5 separate regions of the Homo sapiens genome follow, and regions 2, 3, 4 and 5 are each reported to be linked to region 1. The links are microRNA targets in miRTarBase. Many come from high-throughput screens and were not tested one by one. Region 1 holds a microRNA gene; each other region holds the end of a gene's coding sequence.
Evidence for each region. Region 1 holds the annotated microRNA hsa-miR-4446-5p (AUUUCCCUGCCAUUCCCUUGGC, at 1,192-1,213, shown strand). A microRNA usually pairs through its seed, bases 2 to 8, with sites in the 3' UTR of a target mRNA and lowers its output. Matches are read on the target gene's strand: a 7mer-m8 pairs with bases 2 to 8, a 7mer-A1 pairs with bases 2 to 7 and ends in A, and an 8mer does both.

Region 1 (3,153 bases):
AGCTGATTTGTGAACAACAGTAAGAATGTATTGTGCCAACTCTGATACATGGTTTACTTTTTCCCAAACTAAGATGGAGGCTTTCTTAAGTGTCTAGAAAACTGAAATACTTGACCCTAGCAAGTATAATAAAGAGTATAATAACTTGGGGGAATCCAGAGTAATTGACTATCCAGCAATTGTACTATGCCTTTTCCTCCACTCTGAGAGTTTGAACAAAAGAATTCAATGACCTGATCTTTTTAACAAAATTAAAAATTTAAATGTCCTCATTTTTGAAAAACCTAAACTCAGTGCTCATAGGTTATTTGGCATAGAGCAAGAATTTGGTTAAAGAGGAATATGAAGTGGAACTTGGTTTTTAAGTCATACATAGCAGATGTTTAGGTGTGTGTTTTCCACACTTAAATGAGGCCACAGAATCTTAGAAAGACTTTAACTCACCCCCTACCCCCCTCCAGCAGGATCATTGCTCCCTTTGCTGGAGAGTTTGCTTTTTTCTTTTTAATGTTTGTCTTCCTTAATGTCAGCATGCCTGTTTTTCCAGCCACCCAAGCACTTTGTTTTATAAACATTCAGCTGTCAATATAAAAGACTATAAAAGAACACCTGCTCTCGTGGCTTTAAAGTGCTAAATGCTCCTCTCCCTTTTAGTCGTCAGATGTTTAAATGAATTTGTCTGCTCTCTGGATGTCATCTTTTTTCCTACAGGAAAAAAGTTTTGTGCCTCCAAGTTTTGTGATTAGTTTAGGCCTAGTTGAACTTAGGCCTACATCCAATCGATTGAATCCCATTGGGTAGCCTCTGAATGGTTAGTCTGTTATTTTTTATAGTATGAGTGAAGTCTTTTTATTATAATAATATTTATTGAAGGAATTCTGCATTCAGAAGGGTCTGTTGAACATTGAAGCATAAGTGGACAAAGCTGGGACTTGAGCCAGATCATTGTCCAGGTTCAGGGAGGCTCTGAAAATTAGCTAAGAGCTGGAGGTACCCTTCTGATGGTAAGCGGAAACAAATGAGTGACCAAAAAGAGTAAAGATGCATCATTGAGATTCATGTGGCTGTAGGTAACCACAGCAACAAGAAAAAAAAAATCTCAAACCTGCTTAATCAAGAAAGAGACTCCTAGCTCTGGAAGTAGAGCCAAAAGATGTACTTCAGGATTGATGAGTCCAGTGGCTCTGGTCCATTTCCCTGCCATTCCCTTGGCTTCAATTTACTCCCAGGGCTGGCAGTGACATGGGTCAAGGCTCACACCTTCACCTGGCAGCACCAGAGGGAAGGACCTTTTAAGAAGCCCTCAGCAACTTCTTGTGTTTCATTGGCCTAGAGTGAATCATACACTTATTGTTAAACCAGTCACTGCAAAGAACAGATTTACCTACACATCAGATAAACCTACTTTCAGAATTAAGATTAGGTCCTCTTCTCTAAGACCAGAGTTTCTCAAACTCAATATTATTGACATCATAGGCCAGATAATTCTTTGTTGTTGGGGGCTATTCTGTATCTTATAGGATGTTTAATAGCATCCTTCACTTCCGTGCACTAGATTCTAGGAGTTGCCCCTCCTTGGGACAACTAAAAATGCCTCCAGGCTTGGTGCAGTTGCTCATGCCTGTAATCCCAGCATTTGGGGAGGCCGAGGTTGGAGGATTGTTTGGGCCTAGGAGTTCGAGACCAGCCTAGGCAACATAGTAAGACTTCGTCTTCATAAAAACAAAAAATAAACAAAATTAGGTGGGCGTGGTGGTGTGCACCTGTGCTCCAGCTACTTCGGAGGCTGCTATGGGAGGATCGCTTGAGCCCAGGATGTTGGGGCTGCAGTGAGCTGAGATCGCACCACTGCACTCCAACTTAGGTGACAGAGCAAGACCGTGTCTCAAAAAAAAAAAAAGCCTCCAGACATTGCCAAATGTCTTTTTGGGGGCAAAACTCTTTCCCCACATCCCCCTGTTTGAGAACCATGGACCTAAACACATGAAGACACCTAAATAACACACCAGCTTAGGTAAGAAGTAGGGAATAGGAATATTCACCACACAAAAGTCTTGAAATAGGAAGAAAATAAGGAACCTTTGTAAGGTAGAGAGGCCACAGGGAATGATGGCATCACCCCCAATGTCATGACCACTGGTGAGTCAAGACCTAGATGCTTAAACCAAGAGCAGAAGACAAGCACTGCCCAAGGGAAGAACCAGTGACTTTTTTAGGCATCTCAAACAGAGCATAGAGAAATCAACCAGGAGCAAGAGACAGAGGCAAGTAAGGACCATATCTGGAAGCTAGTGACAGACATTCAGGGAAGAAACAAGGATACAGAAATGTCTTTCTCTCCCAAGGCCAGGATCAGCATGACCATGGGGCACAGGAAGTTCGATGGAGCTCAGAGTTACAGGAAATGCCTTGGGTGCTTATATCCAGAGAAAATGCTAGAAGCAGCTTCTTAAAGGGGAAGAGGATCCCACTAGACTTAATACGGTCTCTGCCCACATCATTGTGGAGCTAGATATCTGTGGAACTTAGCCTAAGGCTTTCACCTTAGACGTGACTGAAGTGGAAGAAATGGAATCAGGTCCCTACAGGTTGCCAAATTGGTGGCAGCTCTGTTGGAGTTAGGAAGGATGCACTCAGAAAATCTGTGCGCTACTCTGCATTTGTTTTTCTTTGATATGCCTGAAGTGATTTAATTAAGCTGTATGTGAAAATCTCCATGTTAGCTCCAACTATAATAAAAAGCAAAAAAATGTATTTCATACTTCATGGGATGAAGAAGAAGATTAGACCCTGGAGCCTGGGTGAGATGGAAATACTGTTGGCAAAGAGCTGCTCCAGGGGACTTGAAGGGACTTTTTTACTGTACTATGAATGACTGGACCCTGTATTGTCTAATTATCCTTAATACCAAAGACAGGGCATCTGTGAGAATCTGAGAGGTACTAAGAAAGGCTCTGTGCTCTAAAACCATTTCCTCCACTGGCTTTATCAGAGAGAAACCCCACATTTCACATCATTGTTAAAGAGCCTCTACAGAAATTCAGTTACCAGCTGAGAAAAATAATGAAGCCTCCCCAACAGGCCTCTGGGACCCCTTGAGTTGCCACCAGGAACTGGGGTACAACAGAAGAGGAGGTTACTTTCTCAAATGCA
Region 2 (3,000 bases), not on the chromosome of region 1:
CAATCTCAGCTCACTGCAACCTCCGCCTCCTGGGTTCAAGCGATTCCCCTGCCTCAGCCTCCCGAGTAGCTGGGACTACAGGCACGTGCCACCACACCCAGCTAATTTTTGTAATTTTAGTAGAGACAGGGTTTCACCATGTTGGCCAGGATGGTCTCCATCTTTTGACCTTGTGATCTGCCCGACTCGACCTCCCAAAGTGCTGGGATTACAGGCGTGAGCCACCATGCCCGGCCATGCCTGTGATTTTTAAATTCTTAAACATGTATTATTTATAACTTAAGACATAAAGACACTATAGTCACATAGGAGAAAACAATTATAATCCAAATGAGAAACAAAAGATCTAAATTAAGGAGGTGTGAAGATAATGTAGAGGTTGTATACTATGACCATTTTAGAAAGAGGATTGTAGGTTTTATTGACTAAGAAGATAAAGGGATGCAAATTAGTTATACAGGTTTTAATTCCAGACAACAGAATAGTGGCTATTAACAATAAAATCAGTAAGTATTCTGGACATGTTTAACTTGAATATTCAGGTAGGGGATTTTATTGGAAATACGGATCTAGAGCTAGTGGAAGAAGTTATATTTAGGAGTCATCCACAAAGAGGCTTGAGAAACAAATGAAAATGTATTGAGAAGTGCATAGAGAACAATGTTAAGGGGGCTGTGGGGAAAAAACAACATTTGGAAGATAACTGAAGGAAATCATAGAGGAAAAATAGTACAATCTAATTTTTCTCCCTAACTGAAAGCAAAACCACTTTTAATACTAAGAATTTATTATGATCTCTCCATGATACTACCGTTTTTTCAATCCCAACAATCATCATCACATCCCAGAGCCATCTCATGACAAGAGCTTTCTAAATACTAATTGCCTGAACACTGAAGAAAATTAATATCTGATACTAAGGTGTAACTTATTTCTCTGTAATTAAAAAAAAGGGGGCCAGGCACGGTAGCTCATGCCTGTAATCCCAGCACTTTGGGAGGCCGAGGTGGGTGGATCACCATCAGGAGTTAAAGACCAGCCTGGTCAAGATGGTGAAGCCCCATCTCTACTAAAAATACAAAAAAATAGCCGGGCGTGGTGGCGGGCGCCTGTAATCCCAGCTACTCGGGAGGGTGGGGCAGAGAACTGCTTGAACCTGGGAGGTGGAGGTTGCAGTGAGCTGAGAGCGTACCACTGCATTCCAGCCTGGGCAACAGAGTGAGACTCCGTCTCAAAAAAAAAAAAAAAAAAAAAAAGGCTTTCTGTTCTTGAAATATTCAAACTAGACAGGACAATTTTAACTGAAGCTGTTCTCACAACCCTGTTTTTCAGCTATTATAAGTTTGTTAATGGACAAACATGTTCATAACTGAAATTTTAAAATTACATAAAAGTATAATTCTATAACCTGCAGAACTAACATTTGATGCATTTTTCCTAGTCCTTTCAATGCTTAGTTTTTATTACATGTATGTAATATCACTTATTGAAGGCTTACTAAATACTGAACCCTGTATTAAAACACTTTCCTGTCTTGTCCTTCCAAACATCCTGACACTCAAAAGTTAAGTGATCTGCACAGGGTCATAGCTAGAATTTAAAAGCTGCTACTTACATCTCAGATATGACTCCAAAGCCCAATCTTCACTACAAAACTGCAATACCTGCTTTCCCTCTCCCCCACTTAGCATAGTTTCAGCATTTCCCAGAACATTAACAGTAATAATTTATTGGCAACTTGACCTCTTATTGTATACATACAGCATGATTTATTTTCCTATTCACCTAGTACTAGCCAAATGTGTATGTATATTGCTATTATAAACAACCCTGTGATTAACATCTTTCTATCAAGATCTGCCTCTACTTTGAACAGTTTCCTTATTGCCAATAGTTATTTTAAAATAAATAGTTATTTTAAAGGGAAATTGACACATACATATAACACACTCACGCAAAACTGGCAAGTAGCAGATAAGTGCTCTTCTAATTTCAGTTTCCTAGCTTTCATGTAGAATGAACAATTATAGTAATAAAGGCTGAAGGAAAACAAAGATATTATTGAGATACAACAGGGACAGTCTAAAACAGCATCAGAAAGCAAGTTCATGCTGTTCAACATTAGCAGGCAAGGGAAATAGGGAAAGAAATACGCAAACGTGGCTATCACAGAAAAGCCAGCTTATTACTTTAGGTTCTGTGGGAGACTACAGGTCACATAAAAGCAGTCTCAACAATAATGTGACCACATGTGCAATCAACATTTACAAAATGAAATTATATATCATGTATAACACAAATGTTTTGCCTATACTTTAATTTACAAAGCCACATACCGAATGACTGAAATGTACATAAACATTCTTTTATGATAGACCAGAACATCTATATTATCATGACTTAGAAAAAGAAAACAGATGCAAAATAGTGTTGAGAATTTCTGGCCTGAAATTACAAGACTAAGTGTGTGTGTGCATGCGTGTGTACATATATTTAAATCGTTTTATTCTCATTTGATCCTTTTGGCTGAACTTTATTCATATATTATCTGCCCTTCTTCTTATAATCTCTCTCATGAAAGATATCATTATCCAGTCATTGAAGCCAAACCCCCTTCACCAGCCCCCAATCTCTAGACATCAAGGGTTAACAAGACATCTTCCTAAATTTCTCCGGAATTAAGCTCTTCTCTGTTAGAATTTCCTTTCCAAGTCCATTTCTTCATAAATCTGGCATGTGAAATTTGAATTGCTCTGCCGCAGTTTTCTCTTCTTTAGTCAGTGGTGACAGCTAGAAAATAAATGATAAAATCTTTATTTCAAAAACTTTCAAAGACTTAAATCAGTTTAGTTAACTTCTGCATTGTCACACCAATAAATGTTTCCCTAAGCTTATACTATGTATGTAATCACAGATTTAGAAAGGCAAGGGAAAAAACAGATACTTGGCTATTTATATACAAGGTCCTATGATGTTTGAGCTTCTAAAGAACTTGCAATT
Region 3 (3,000 bases), not on the chromosome of region 1:
ATGGCTCTTCCATGGAAGAGTTTTCCGGAGAGAGGTCAGATGGGAATCTAATTGGGCACAGACAGGAGGCTGCCCTCGCAGCAGGTTACAGTGAGAATATTGAAATGGTAACAGGGATTAAAGAAGAAGCTTCCCACTTAGGATTCTCAGCCACTGACAAGCTGTATCCTTGTCAGTGTGGGAAAAGTTTCACTCACAAGAGTCAGAGAGATCGGCACATGAGCATGCACCTCGGTCTTCGGCCTTACGGCTGTGGGGTCTGCGGTAAGAAATTCAAAATGAAGCACCATCTCGTGGGCCACATGAAAATTCACACAGGCATAAAGCCGTATGAGTGTAATATCTGTGCAAAGAGGTTTATGTGGAGGGACAGTTTCCACCGGCATGTGACTTCTTGTACTAAGTCCTACGAAGCTGCAAAGGCTGAGCAGAATACAACTGAGGCTAACTAAAAATAGGATCTGGCCCTTGAGTGGCATGCACAAAAATAAACTATGGTAATTAATGCAAATCTGGGCACAGATGATGCGTGCTACTTGCTATTATGAGAGAAGCTTAAAAAAAAAAAGGAAGATATTTCTGAAAGACCAGCTCTAAGTAGGCCAATTAAAAAAATCTAATTCCTCAAATTTGTGTGTTCCAGTCCTGGCCTGGAATGGGTAATGGGGTGAGTTAACCCACCGCCCAGCTGGCAAGGGAAACCTTCTGACTGGTTGTGATCGAAACAGGTGGACAGAGACACCTGCACTTGGAACTGGACTCCACCCACCAGTTCCATTTTGGGTGGCAGCAGCTTTGGATCACTCATTATTACAAGGTCATGCTGAAATTTTATTTTGCTCTTGCTATAGATACTTAGGTAATGTGGATTTGTTTTGGTAGCTATTTCACTGAAGGAAGTGCTACTTATATAAAAGCTAGAAATAATGTGATTCCTAGGATGAGAAATTGGTTAACAGAGCTCTGTTGTCTGGTTTTAGTCTTTCTAAAGGATATTTTAACTAAAACTATGGAGATGCTAAGAGAGTGACTTTCTAAATATGAAACAGATAATTTACGGTACAAGGCTGACATAGTGCCCTTGTCAGTTTCTGTAAGATGCCACTACTGTCACAAGGTGTTTCAGACTCTTGATAAGGCAGTGTTTTGTATTTTAGTTCTAACATTGAGTTTGGACAATTTTATCTAATTGTAATTCTCTAGGGTGCCAGAGATAGGTATTTCTCATTGGTTTGCTTTCCCAAATCCTGTTTGGTTAATTGTAGCCTCCATACAGTGGGGTCTTCTCTGTGGCTGGTAGACACCAAGCTGCTGTGACTGACCACGGTACCACGGGCTGCCACAGCCCCTGCTCTGTCTTAGATTATGGTGCTTTACAAAGAGAGTGGTCCATGACCACACTTAGTGAGAAGGAGCCACAAGTTGTGGCTGAGAGTTCCCTGTGAACTTGAGTAGTTCATAGAGTGCTAAGGTGACACTCCACCAACCAGAGTGAGAGGGCAGATAGGCAGGATTCTATGAGTGGTTATACTTAAGGGGGACAAAACTGCCCAAGAAGAATCTTGAGAATACACTCTTTCAAGGTGGGGGAGATACTCTTTAGAGGGTACACTGAGCTAATACTACCAGTTCTTTATGAGCACTGGAATGTGTTTGTAAAAGGAGTCCTAAGTTTAGCAAGGTAGTCTACAGAACCATGCTCCCACATTATAGATAAAGCTGCTTAAACTTAAAAGTCCACAAAGCTACGCCGACCAGAAAAAAAAAATTAAAAAAACAAACAAGAAAAGCAACTATTCTGAGACCTTTTCTGCCCATCAGTTAGATGATTTAGGTTAAAAAGAAAGGTAATATTGCACATGCTTTTAAGCTGTGTAACATACCTGAGGTTATCACCAGGGTAGGACAGGGTGCTACTACCATGTCATCTTTTCCACAATCGTACTGGGTTATTTACTTCTAAATAGAAACTTTTTTTTCTTAAAATAAAAATAATTTTTCTTGGATTTGGGGTGAAATTTTATTTGAAAAGTTTGGCTTTGCTGTAATGTAATAGACATTGCTGGCAATGGCCTCTGATTCTCAAGCTCCTAACACCAGGGTGTTTACTTGTTGAACATTGTCTGGAAAGAGGAAAGAAAATACTTATTTACCAGTTAACTCTTGTAAGCAAGATTACAAACAGGGATTTATTCACAACACTGTATCATTCTCGATATATAAAAAGCACTTTGTATTTAAAACTTTATTATAAATATATATATATATTGTTTTTTTTTAAACCTAGAAACTAGATATTACCTCTTGGTTGTTTGCCACATTAATAGCTTCTCTTAGTATTGAAACGTTACTGGTTAGCAGTCTTTTCTCTGTGTACCTGACACACGTATACTGAGGGGATTGTACAATCAAGCCTATTGTCTCCTTTTCTTTCACTCATGGTAGAGGCCAGTGGGTTTTAGGTATGATCCTAGCCATTATATTTGAGGAGAAATTGTTCTATTACTCCTACTAATTTCAGTACTAAGGTGGTGATGCCATTTTGTTCTGCCAAAAACTGATCACCCTCTCCCATGGTATTAGCAGAGCATTTTCTGCCTGTTTGGAAGGTTTGATGTCCTGTTTCTCATTGAAGACTATTTACATGATCATTAGGACATTGCAGGAGAAGTCTGAGAGGTAAAAATACAGATATTCTGGGAGAGTCGTGGTCCTTCAGTTCTGCTGAAATCAGCATAGTGCCCTTGTCATGAGGAAGAGTTTCTGTTCAGCCAAGAGTGGTGGCACGCTTGGGTGGTAGTTTTGGAAGCAGTCAGTTGTGCTAGGACTTATTTAATATGTTGTGAAGAGAAGAGTGTCTTCTTGAAAGCCTTATGTGTCCATCAGCTACTAAATGTAGAACTTAAATAAGTTGCTCACATCTGTTCTTTTAGTGTTTTGTGGTATTTGAGGTTTTGGCAAAAATTGGGATTTTTTTATCAGGCAGCCAGAGCCTGGGAG
Region 4 (3,000 bases), not on the chromosome of region 1:
TTCTGCATCTCAGCTGCAGATCCCATACAGCTTCTAGAGTGAGCACTTTCTTCCCCCAAGCACCGTCTCTCATTCCTTTGCTGTTCCTTTCTTTGCCAGAAAGTGGCCACCTGACCAGTCTTCCTCTGAACTCTGTTTAAACAGGTGCAATACCAAGAACTGAAACCAGATCCTTCTCATAGCCCATATAAAAGAAAGAAAAACAATCTTGGCTAGCCAGCTCCCAGCACTGAGGAGACCAGCATCTGTTTGGGAAGATAAAAGAAAAAGCCCTCAGCCTCAGCAGCATTTCCTTTCTTTCTGCTTTTTATTTATTTTGCCTTTTTATCATGATCGAGAGAATCTGTAAATAGTGTACAAAGGCATATGTCTTTGAATATATACTTCTATTGTACAGACTCAACTTGATAAAGGTTTTGCTACTGCTGTGTCAAAACCTTGTTAGCTGTGGATAATAATATAACACACTGAAAGAACAAATATAAGAATGATAACACTGGAAGATATATTCTTATCTAATTACTAGTGGATTAAATACTCACCTGTGCTCTGATTAAATCTACATCAATTGTAAATGTCGATTTGATTTTAAAGTTTTTTTTTAATGCGACTATTTTTTATCTGAAAAGTAATCCATTACACTTTTCTATGTTTTATACATTTCAAAAGGGAGGGAAATTCCAAAGCCTGAATAATGGAATGGATACATTTCAATTTAACATATATTCTGGCTTTAGATCCCGACATTCACTCCTGTGCAAATTACTTAGGTATGACTTAGGCTAATTTTAAGCTAATAAGTGAAGGTACATTCACTCCCTCAAGAGAATCAATACTCAGAAGGTTACAAAGTTTTCTTTATAGAATTTCAATCAATCATTCCATCTAAAACCTTAAAATCTCTACAGGACTACATAACATAAATACTGCCAGTTTATAAACGATTGCCTATCTGAATTTTTATACCTACCACTACTTTAATTTATACAGTTAGTTAGCAAATTAGCAACCCAGTAAGTACAGTTATCAAAAATACTAGGAAACTATATCCATATCGCTTTTGGTGTCAGATTGTATCTGTGCATCTAAAAATATTTTAATAAATACTCAAGTGCTCTCAGAGAAAAAAAAAACCTGCTTTCTCATTAGATTACTGAAATGCTTTAATTCATACTATGATTTTGTTATTAGTGTGAATTTTAATGTAGAGAATTCAGTGTGCTAAGTGATATGCCAGTGTTTCACTACATTCATTTATTAAAAAAAATCATTCTTGATTATGCATGAAAACCTGTTTTGTAAAATAAAATAAACTGCTTGGGGGTGGTGGTTGCCTTTATCAATGTTTCACTATTATCATAGAATCTATACTTAAAAATTGCATTCCCAAGACTCTTAAAGTAGTTTTTATATCTCACTCCCTGGTATACTAAGGGAGCATAACTCTGGAGAAAAAATAATTTGGTTGGTTGAGAATGTCTTACTTCCCTGACTTGGTAGGGGACTACACTCAGTTGAAATTGCAGCAGACAATGCTTTGCACTACTTTATTAATAATAAACTTGGATGGGGTAAAAGTGGGGGTTATACTGGAAAAACTATAGAAAAGCTAAAAGAAATGTATATTTCACTCTAAAGGAAGATTCTTTAACAATAAATGTAATCTCATTGAAGCTGATTTTTAAAGTATTTTTATTTTAGAGATAAGTTGTTAAATACTATTTCTTATAATAGAACTATTTTGATCTGTTTATATACTATGCTTGAATGTCAATTAAATTCCCTTTCTACAGAAAGGCTTTGACCTCAACATGCTTTATTTAATGTATCATGTTTAAAATGACATGCTTCTGTCTGCATACCATCACTGTTTGTTGCTAAAAACATAATGTTCCATGAACATGATGTTACTACAGAAAGTTTATTGATGAGATAACTGTTTGAAATAACTTTCAATTATACCTTATGTGAGACTTTTATGTTCTGTGCTGACAATGTGTACTCAAATGTCTATAAGCCTGATATTCTACAACCTCAGATGTATCTAGTGGATAGTAACCATTAACAGATGACTAATTTGTTTCACTGTATCAAATTTCAGATGTTTAGTTCAATGGTAATGCTGACTACACATTCACTGTATTAAATACAAAAGAAAATAATCTTTCCCACGTATAATCAGCACTCCTTTTTTTTTTTTTTTTGGTGGTTCAGAGATTGATGAGGGATTGTGTGCATATTCTTAAAAACTATATGTCACTTGGAGAAAAACAGATTTGGTTTAAACAAATAAGACCTTTTTCCTGAAACTCTGACTCTTATATGAAAATACCTCTGGAGGGGTGAGCAACCAATGACATTAACAGAGGAATAAGAACTAGCTTGAGGCACAAAAGTGATATTCAGGGAAATCTTCATTGCTTTTAGAAACTACTACATTCACAGGCTGAAAACAGAATATGTATAGTTAAAATTTTAACTATTTATTTCTTTCCCCTTCTCACATAGCTGCAATTCTGTCTTGAGAGCTGCCTGACTTGCCTTCATTTTGAGATCTGTGATGTAAATATTTCTTAAGAGACTGAATGTCACTCAAACATCTACTTGGACTGCTAACTATTATAGATATTGTGAACTACTAAATATATTCCTTTAGTATCTTTTAGTGAGTAAATTCACTGAGTCATTATTTATATTCATAAACTATTACTGACATTCGTTGTGATAATTCATAAGAAATGCGTATTTGTGCTTTTAAATTTTTCCCCACTTATCAAAAAGAACATAATAGTACTTCTCATTCATTCTGGTACTGTTCCAGACTCAAACTGATTGATTGATTGAATCTCCCAACTCAGATTATCCTAGTGCATATAGAATGTTCAAAAACTGGAATTCCTACAGAACCTATCAATCAATCAATCAGTTTTTGAACATTCTATATGCACTAGGATAATCTGAGTTGGGAGATTCTTAAAAGGACTCTGTGATATATTTATC
Region 5 (3,000 bases), not on the chromosome of region 1:
ACAATGGACGCTTACACCCTCGTCCCCCTCACCCTCACAATAACGGGCAGAACTTGGGGGAGCTGGAGGTGGTGGCCTACTCTTCCCCAGGACACTCAGACACTGACCGTGATAACTCGTCCCTGACAGGGACACTCCTACACAAAGATTGTTGCGGGTCTGAAATGGCCTGTGAGACCCCCAATGCTGGAACAAGAGAGGACCCCACTGACACCCCAGCCACAGATAGTAGCAGGGCTGTTCATGGCCACAGTGGCCTCAAAAGGCAACGAATTGAATTGGAAGATACAGATTCAGAGAATTCCTCCTCAGAGAAGAAATTAAAAACATGATAAATACAAAGGGAAAACAAAAAGCTACAAAAGTAGCCTTACAAAAAAAAAAAAATTGTTTAGTGAATACAGAGGAAAGGAAAAACAAGTATTAAAGGCACATGAAACCAGGGCCTGAAATTTTGTGTCTGATGCTGCTCCCTTCTATCCAACATTCAACAACGGGTCTGAATGTCTAGCTGGCCATTGGCTTGTGCTGTGTTAAGAAAGGGGAAAAAAAAATAACCCAAGTGACTCCTTTCTAGTGAGACGTGAGCGTAGTGTGCCGCGCAAGGCTCTGTGGAAGTAAATCTTTGTTGAGACGTTCGACTTGTTCTTGTGTACGCACAATGGCACGTGTGCGCTTATTGTCTCATAAGACCTTCCTTTTAGTTCTCCATCAGAAAGGACCTATGAATTTGTACTTTTTGCCATCTCACCCTGTTTACATGCCATAGGTGTTCTGGTCTGGATGATGGGTGCCTGTTAAATCAGGTTGTGCTGCCAGTGAGTTGTAGATTTATGCTGGAAGAATGGAGAATGGAAACAGGCCTTCAGCCCATTGGCTGCGCTGGAGAGGAAAGCATGGTTCCTTTCTTAAAGAAATCTTCCATGTTTTCTCTAAGTAACACTTCTTTATTGAGCATTTAATGTGGACATACTATAAAAAAGAATTTTTAATGCTAATGAGAGGTTTAGCACTTAAGATCAGATTCAAGAGAATATAGATTCCTGATAAATTTCACTGTTTGCAAATTGAGCAGTGCTGCAACATGTACTGTATGAAGGCCATAAAATAGAGCTAGTCATGGATAACAGACTTTAACCAGTTAGGTGCTAGATCCTAAGAGGCACTCACAAGGCCAGCAGGTGCTTCCTTGGCTCCCATGATCGATCGAGGCATAGTGAAAGAAGGGCAAAGACAGCTTTCCAGAGCTTTGTGCTCAGGCTACTAAAGTAGTTGTTATAGGTGTGTTAACGAAGAAGCTTAGTGAGGAGCAGAATGTGGTACTATATTCATTTAACTCAACCCAGAACCATTGGTCAGAATTGGTGGGACTGGCATCTTCCCTCAGACTTGCAGTTGATAGAGGCTGTGGTGTTCTCACTAGACTTTGCAGAGCAGTAGGCATCTCAAGGTAACAGATTCTTATTGAGTAGGTCTATTAGGAGTCAGAAGGTGTTGGGGAGGAGTCTCTGGCTTATGACTCCTGGTTCCCATTAGTCTTAAGTCTTCTGGTTCCCATAAAAGACTCAGTTTTATTGAGGTAGATACAGGTTTAGAAGAGAAAAGAGCAACAGATTTTCAGCGTTGCAGTCACTCGGTTATCTATGAAGGGTTGTGCAAAACAGGAAGGTCTGGGAATGACCAGATATCTTGTTGGCATAAATGTTATGAAAAGGCAGAATACTGGCAAGAAATGAGGAAGAGAGAGAAAAACAATATAACTTTCTTGAGTGCAAAGGTGCTAGACAACTAGGAGCCCAGCTGGGATTGGTGTAGGGAGGGCCGAACGCTGACTAGTGTGGCCTCACTGCCCCAGGCTTCCTTTCAGAGGAAGGCCTGTCCTGCTGGAACTGGAGCCAAGGGGAGGCTGCCTATGAAGGCAGAAGATGTGGATGAATTCAGGCACTGGGGGTGGGGGGGTTATTTATAAACACAAGGTGGTTGGTTTAAGCCAAAAGGAGATACCATCCTGATAAGCTCTGTGAAAGAGAAGATGTGCCTGGTGTGTGTAATGCGGCTGGGGTATGAAAACACTGAGAAGGAGATGAAGGAGTGTGTGTAGCATGGGGGTGTGTACAACTTAACACCTGGACTTTTACTGGGGGAGTGGGAAAGTGATTCTGTAACCAACATTAGAATTACTTTGGATTTGTAATCAGATTGGTTCTATGATTTGTCTTTGACTATTCACAGATAATTGTAAATGCTGGTTTTATAAGCCCAAGTCATTTTACATTTGCTTTTCCAAAATGTATTAAATTGGAATTTTTTAATCCTTTATATACAAAAAAAATACGATCACTCAGTGTGTGTTTCTCTTCCCCTTCTTAGTCAGCACACCCAGTCCTTTATTTTATTCTATTCTATTTATTTTATTTTAATAAGTACTTAGCCTCTTCTGACTTCTCAAAGGACAATCGGATACATATCTTCCTGAAAAGAAGTAGTTAAAGTTCCCTTGGGAACTAGCTACTTGGTAGTTACAATTCCCAAATGCAGAACTTGGTCTTTTCATGTTAAAAGCCTTAATCTCATTTGGGTACTCAAAAGAGAAATCAGAGTTTATTCTGGTTAACTTGAGAAGCCAAGAAAGATCATTTTTAGCAAGTATGCCTTCCATCCTTGGCAGAGGCTTCCCAGCATCCTAGGCTCAGCTTACCGGGTGATAGGCCCCATAAGACACACACATGAGCAGGGTGAGAAATGCTTGCTTTATAGCTGCTCCACCCTCATCTCCAGAGATTTTGTGTCTATGGTTGTGGGTCTGGAAACCTGGCAGGAACCACTTCTAGAGTACCTTTGCCTAAACTCTTTTAGAATTGAGGCCCCAACTTTGATGGCACATTTAATACCCAATTTCTTCCATAATAGATATTTTTAATAGCAGGACAGATGGCACTGATTAGATCAAGAACTATTTGGAAGTGCCTCTTATGTTTTTTTCCTGCATTCTGTACATAA

Region 2: the mRNA of SKA2 is a reported target of hsa-miR-4446-5p. Seed matches in the 3' UTR shown: 7mer-m8 at 1,669-1,675.
Region 3: miRTarBase lists ZBTB43 as a target of hsa-miR-4446-5p. Seed matches in the 3' UTR shown: 7mer-m8 at 695-701.
Region 4: miRTarBase lists MCTP1 as a target of hsa-miR-4446-5p. Seed matches in the 3' UTR shown: 7mer-m8 at 672-678 and 7mer-m8 at 2,405-2,411.
Region 5: miRTarBase lists DCAF5 as a target of hsa-miR-4446-5p. Seed matches in the 3' UTR shown: 8mer at 342-349 and 7mer-A1 at 543-549.

What each region holds. Positions count from the first base shown.
Region 1 is chr3:113,593,692-113,596,844 of GRCh38, forward strand. It overlaps MIR4446 (microRNA 4446), which reads left to right and starts at 1,185; the gene lies at 1,185-1,251. The region is part of intron 10 of SIDT1 (SID1 transmembrane family member 1); the gene reads left to right.
Region 2 is chr17:59,109,556-59,112,555 of GRCh38, forward strand. SKA2 (spindle and kinetochore associated complex subunit 2) reads right to left here. Exons shown (of 4, transcript NM_182620.4): 4 at 302-2,790. The coding sequence ends at 2,722. All of the region lies in intron 1 of LOC124904039 (a long non-coding RNA gene), which reads left to right. Among named protein-coding and RNA genes, the nearest start is that of TRIM37, 4.2 kb to the left of the region's middle.
Region 3 is chr9:126,833,462-126,836,461 of GRCh38, forward strand. ZBTB43 (zinc finger and BTB domain containing 43) reads left to right here. Exons shown (of 3, transcript NM_014007.4): 3 at 1-3,000. The coding sequence ends at 452. Among named protein-coding and RNA genes, the nearest start is that of ZBTB34, 26 kb to the right of the region's middle. RefSeq lists an enhancer at 1-246.
Region 4 is chr5:94,704,712-94,707,711 of GRCh38, reverse strand. It overlaps MCTP1 (multiple C2 and transmembrane domain containing 1), which reads left to right. Exons shown (of 23, transcript NM_024717.7): 23 at 145-3,000. The coding sequence ends at 216. Among named protein-coding and RNA genes, the nearest start is that of SLF1, 88 kb to the right of the region's middle.
Region 5 is chr14:69,051,189-69,054,188 of GRCh38, reverse strand. It overlaps DCAF5 (DDB1 and CUL4 associated factor 5), which reads left to right. Exons shown (of 9, transcript NM_003861.3): 9 at 1-3,000. The coding sequence ends at 332. Among named protein-coding and RNA genes, the nearest start is that of ACTN1-DT, 73 kb to the right of the region's middle.